Regions from separate parts of the Homo sapiens genome. Here region 2 is linked to region 1. A link means that fine-mapping ties the variant in region 1 to the expression of a gene that starts in the linked region. Tissue or cell type: NK cells. Region 1 holds a variant in brackets; the other region holds the start of a gene. All regions are shown on one strand. Distances are between the middles of the regions.

What was found. PIP is the estimated chance that this variant, and not a neighbour inherited with it, causes the effect.
Region 2: POLA2 starts here. The variant in region 1 is fine-mapped to the expression of POLA2 in NK cells (Gilchrist 2021, PIP 0.95).

Annotation. Positions count from the first base shown.
Region 1 is chr11:65,172,398-65,175,078 of GRCh38, forward strand. It overlaps SPDYC (speedy/RINGO cell cycle regulator family member C), which reads left to right. Exons shown (of 7, transcript NM_001008778.3): 5 at 37-208; 6 at 287-617; 7 at 786-977. The coding sequence ends at 820. It also overlaps the pseudogene PGAM1P8. Among named protein-coding and RNA genes, the nearest start is that of SPDYC, 3.5 kb to the left of the region's middle. The variant CT/C (reference allele first, on the strand shown) is at 1,719.
Region 2 is chr11:65,260,884-65,263,564 of GRCh38, forward strand. It overlaps POLA2 (DNA polymerase alpha 2, accessory subunit), which reads left to right and starts at 1,079. Exons shown (of 18, transcript NM_002689.4): 1 at 1,079-1,488. The coding sequence starts at 1,410. RefSeq lists enhancers at 217-1,104, 1,099-1,348, 1,105-1,990.

The DNA of each region.
Region 1 (2,681 bases):
GGCCTCTGCTCCCTGACCTTGTGCCTCTGTGGCTAGGTACCTTGCAAACGACATGGAGGAGGACCTGGAGGGCCCCAAATGTGAGATTTTTCCATGGGCCCTGGGAAAAGATTGGTGTTTACGAGTGGGGAAATTCCTGCACCAGAGGGATAAGCTTTGGGCACGGATGGGTTTCCGGGCTGTTGTGAGCCGCCAGTGCTGTGAGGAGGTGAGGCTGGGAGGCAACCTGGGGTGTGGGGAAGGCTGGGGTTCCCACCCCATTTACTGTCCACTCTGCTCCTCCCAGGTCATGGCAAAGGAGCCATTCCACTGGGCTTGGACTCGGGACCGGCGCCCCCACCATGGTGGGGTTCAGAGGGTCTGTCCACAGGTCCCTGTTCGCCTTCCCCGGGGCCCTGGCCTCTCGCCGCCCCACTGTTCCCCCTGTGGTTTGCCCCAGCACTGCAGCAGCCACTTGCTTAAGCCTGTGTCATCCAAGTGCCCTTCTCTGACCTCTGAATGTCATCGCCCTCCCTCCCAAAATTATCTCTCAAGGGTCAAAAACGCCTGGGGTGGGGACTTTCTCATCGTCTTGCCTCCCCAGATGCAACTGGAACCAGGCACCTACTCCCTCCGCAGTGAGTGCAGGATGGGACAGGAGCTGGGGGCTGGTGTGGGAGCTTGGGAGGCAGGAGTGAGGACCAACAATATGAGAGAGAGGGCCATGGGCCTGGGGTCGACGTGCTGCCCCTCCCGTGTGAGCTTGGCAGGTTTCTTCTCTGAGCCTCACTCTTTCCTCTCCCCAGTCTTCCCAAAGCCTCCGGCACGCCCTGGGCACTGAAGCTCTGCAGGGTGAAGAACAGCACGCCTGCTGGCCCACTGACTGACACACCATTGGCTGTGCTCCCACCCCTGCCCCTTCCTCCCAGCCTGCAGCTTGTGCCCACTCTGGTGCCAGTCCCCTCTAATAAATTCATGTCCACAGGACACCAACTGTGCTTAGGTCCTGGCCTGGTTCCTTGACCCAAGGTTGGGGTGGGGAGGGGGTATCTACCAGGGTTACAACATGTGAGCACAGGCTCTGTAACAGCTTGGCCCCTTCCCATTGGTGGCCAGTTATTCTGAGCCTCAGTTTCATCTCTGTGCTATCCATGCCTATGGATGATGAGATCTACACAGTCTAGATGGGATTAAATGAGATGAGGTATCTGCAGCCCTTAGAAGAGGGCCAGGGAGCCGAACGTGGTGGCTCACACCTGTAATCCCAGCACTTTGGGAGGCTGAGCCGGGTGGATCACTTGAGGTCAGGAGTTCAAAAACAGCCTGGCCAACATGGTGAAACCCCTTTGCTACTAAAAATACAGAAACTAGCCAGGCATGGTGGCAGGTGCCTATAATCCCAGCTACTCGGGACGCCAAGGTGGGAGAATTGCTTGAACTGTGGAGGCGGAGGTTACAGCGAGTTGAGATCATGCCACTGCACTCCAGCCTGGACGACAGAGTGAGACTCTGTCTCAAAAAAAAAAAAAAAAAAGGCCAGGAACATATTGGGAAACAAAACTTGAATGGAAGACAGCTCTTTATTTAGTCTAGAAATGCCTTCAGGGCCAGGTTTACTTAGGAATAAGACTTGATCCCTTCCTTGAGCTACAGTCAAATATAATATTGTAATTATAATAAACAACCCCCCTCCCCCAAGAGACATGAGGACTCAAAAGGGTTAATTTCTTTTTTTCTTT[CT/C]TTTTTTTTTTTTTCACATCACTCCTTTATTATACTGATCTGGAAAAAGATTTAGTACAGTTATGCTCAGATGAACACTGGACCCATGTGGCAGGGCCAAGCAAGTAGAACATGATTCAGAAATCAGTGAAAGACATACTTGGACAGGACCAAGAGGCATTTCACTGTCACGAAACAAGGCAGGAAGGGATTGTAATACCCACACCAGGAAGCACTCCTGCCCCTCAGAGGTCAAGGAGCTGATCCTATATTGGTATGAGGAATGGCTTATTTTCTGATGACTACATGTGGGACTATTTCAACCGCCACGAGAAACCCCAGAAGGGTTATTGTTTTGTATTATTTATATATACTATACTTCTTAAATTAAATGTAACACATAACTAAATTCAGGATTGATCCCAACCTTCTAGAGCCAGCTCCTCTGGCGTCAGGGAGGAAACAGTTGTCACATCACCATGCAGGTTACATTCATCTTCCACTGGAATGACTAGAGCCCTCAGGCAGTGGCCTGACTGCAGACGAGCAGAGGACTGGCTCCTGGGGACAGACAGGCTCTGTTGCTTCTCCTCATTGGTCATGGCTTAGCATGGTTCCTCCCCACAAGTCCTTAGTAAACAAAGCAACTCGCAAAAACCCAAGTCACTACTTTTAAACTCTGTTGGATAAGGGGAGCTTTTCCACAGCTTGGACTGAGAACCTGTGCTCTAGAAGTGCTATTCTGACTAGATTGTATGAAGGGAGTGGGTGCAGGAGACAAAATGGCTAAAATGAAAATGGGAGTCACTGGTCCCCATCTGCAGCTACAACTCAAGATGTCTACAGATGGGGTCAGTGTGACATGTGCAGGTGGGAGGGGCAGAGGGACAAGACAGGCAGGGAGGGTGCTCCTGGGAACAGTATCCTCCCTGCTGGCCTTCACTTCTTGGCCTTGCCCTGGGCAGCCACAGCTTCCATGGCTT
Region 2 (2,681 bases), 88 kb after region 1:
TTAAAAGGGACAGGAATTGCTCATTCGGGGAGCTCGGCTGGTGAGACAGGAGTCTTGCCGATGACCCCAGCCGAATAAACCCCTTCCTTCTTTAACTCGGGTGTCTGAGGAGTTTTGTCTGTGGCTCGTCCTGCTACAAAGTGATCCGCCTGCCTCGGCCTCCCAAATGCTGGGATTACAGGCGTGAGTGACCGCACCTGGCCTGGGATGGACATTTTAAAGGTTCCTGATACATATTGCTAAATTGTTTTCTCGAAACGCTCTATACCATCCCACCAGCATTGTATGACGCCTACGGTTGAGATTTTTGGCTCAAAGAATTACGGTGTATTTCAAGGGGAGAACCCTCTTCTCATCTTACCCCTAAACTCTATCCTTGAGTGACCTACCTTCACTCCCAAGCCTCCAGTCACCCACTGGGAATCTCTACCTGGAAATCCCAGAGGCACTCAAACTTAACGTGTCCAAAACTAAATTATCCGTCACCTTCCCACCTCATATCCCCCCAAATGCCCCAGATTCAGAAAACATACCCATCACTGTGGCTGGCACCACGGTGATAAGCACGATAATAACCATGGCAACCAGATTCCCTACTGAAGCCATTCTTTTAGGATGAACCAAGGGCACAACAGGCAGAGATGACAAGGGGAATGGAGAAGGGGGTACAGTAAGTTTTAGATAGTCGAAGGCACGCGCACGACAACGCCTGCGCACCACGGAACAGGGCAAAAGGGTGACAAACATGCGCCACTGAGTTTTATCGAGCAGCCGATGCCCAGAAAACAGGCATCCGCACACAGACTCAGTTTCCTTGTAGGCAACTCCCGGGCGTTGCGAGTCACAACCGGCATTCTCGCGCCGTGAGAGAGAACTGCGCAGCTGCTGACTGGCGGGCCGCCAGGCGCGTGCGTAGAGACGCCCACACGCCCGCTGATGCGCACGCGCCCTGGGCCGCGCGTGCGCGCGTGGGGTTCCGGAATGAGCCGGGGAAAGCAAGGGGAAGGTTTGGGGTTGGCTCCCGGTTTCGCGCATGCGTGCACTGCACAAACCATTTGGCGGGTTTTTCCGGCCACTCAGTTCTGCCACCGTCACTGAGAAGCTCAGCGGTAGCTTTTGGGAAGCAGGACGTTCTCACCAGGAGAGCGTCCTCTCGAGATTTCTGCTCCCTCCATTCAGGGCGTTTGGGAGCCACCCCTTCATTTTTTAAAAAAAGTATTTCTCTGTGACCGACGGCCGGGGCCTTCTGACGGTCTGAGGTCTTGCTTGGGCCAGTCACCTCCTGTCACGGTCCGCGGAGGGGGGAAGGATAAGAGGGCGAGGAGCTCATCGCTCGCCACCCCCGTGGGCTTCTTGGGCGCAGGTCGGAGCTGGGTGGGCCGGCTCCCCGGCCCCTGGCTTGGGCGACCATGTCCGCATCCGCCCAGCAGCTGGCGGAGGAGCTGCAGATCTTCGGCCTAGACTGCGAGGAGGCTCTAATTGAGAAATGTGAGTCCCGCACCCCTCCCGCCCTGCAGCCGTGCTCCACGCTCTCGCCCGAGTTCCTCGGCGCCTAGAACCGAAAGTGGAGCGCTTCCAATTTCCACTTCCCCTGGAGCAGAGTTCTCGGTGGCTGTGAGATGAAGAATCAAACTTGAGTTTTGAGATTTAGGATGTGGGGACTTTGAAATGCCCACCGGGTACCGCTTGGATGCCAAATCAAAAATAGGAATATGCAGCACGATTTTAAACCAACTCGAAGTTCCCGAAAGGCGGAATTGGGATGTGCTAGATAGAGACTAGGCACTGGTGGCACCTGAGTTTGGAAATTGTTGAAGCCCCGGTAACAAAGCAACAGATGTGGGGGTTTTGAAATGTAGCTTTTTATTCTTGGCTCCTCCCTTTCCAGCCTACACCTTAAACCTCTGCTGATCCATCAGTTATTTTATCATAGCTGTTGGTGGTCTGTGCAAATATGAATCCCTTGAGGTAGGTTCCTAAAATTGAATTTGAGCTGTGGAAGGAGCTTTAGGGAGCTTTACAGATGGAGAAACAGACAAGGAAAGCTAATTGCCTGAGCTGTCTGTGAAGCCAGGTGTCCTGCCTTGGAGTCCCGTGCTGCATCATACGGGTCCATCGTGTTGGTCAAGCTGTAGAGCAGTGTAAGGAGTCATTTGAAGCAAAGCCTGGGAGATGTGGAAGTTCTAGAATCGGTATGAATGTGCACCTGCCTTAACCACTCAACACTTTGAACTTCTTATATACAAAAAGATAACGAAACGTTAATTTATGGTGAGAAATTCCTTTCAGAAACCAGAATACTTCAAGTCTTCATGCCCAGTGCCTTCTCTCTCTCTCTTTTTTTTTTTTTTTTTTTTTGACAGTCTTGTTTTATCACCCAGGCTGGAGTGCAGTGGTGCAATCTCGGCTCACTTCAGCCTCCGCCTCCCAGGTTCAAGCGATTCTCCTGCCTCAGCCTCCCAAGTAGCTGGGATTACAGGCGCCCGCCACCAGGCCCGACTAATTTTTTTTTGTACTTTTAGTAGAGAAGGGGTTTCACCATGTAGGCCAGACTGCTCTCGAACTCCTGACCTCAAGTGATCCACCCACCTTGGCCTTCCAAAGTGCTGGGATTACAGGCATAAGCCAGCAGGCTCGGTCCTTCTCTTTTTAAAAGAAGACTAGCCAGGTGTGGTGGCTCA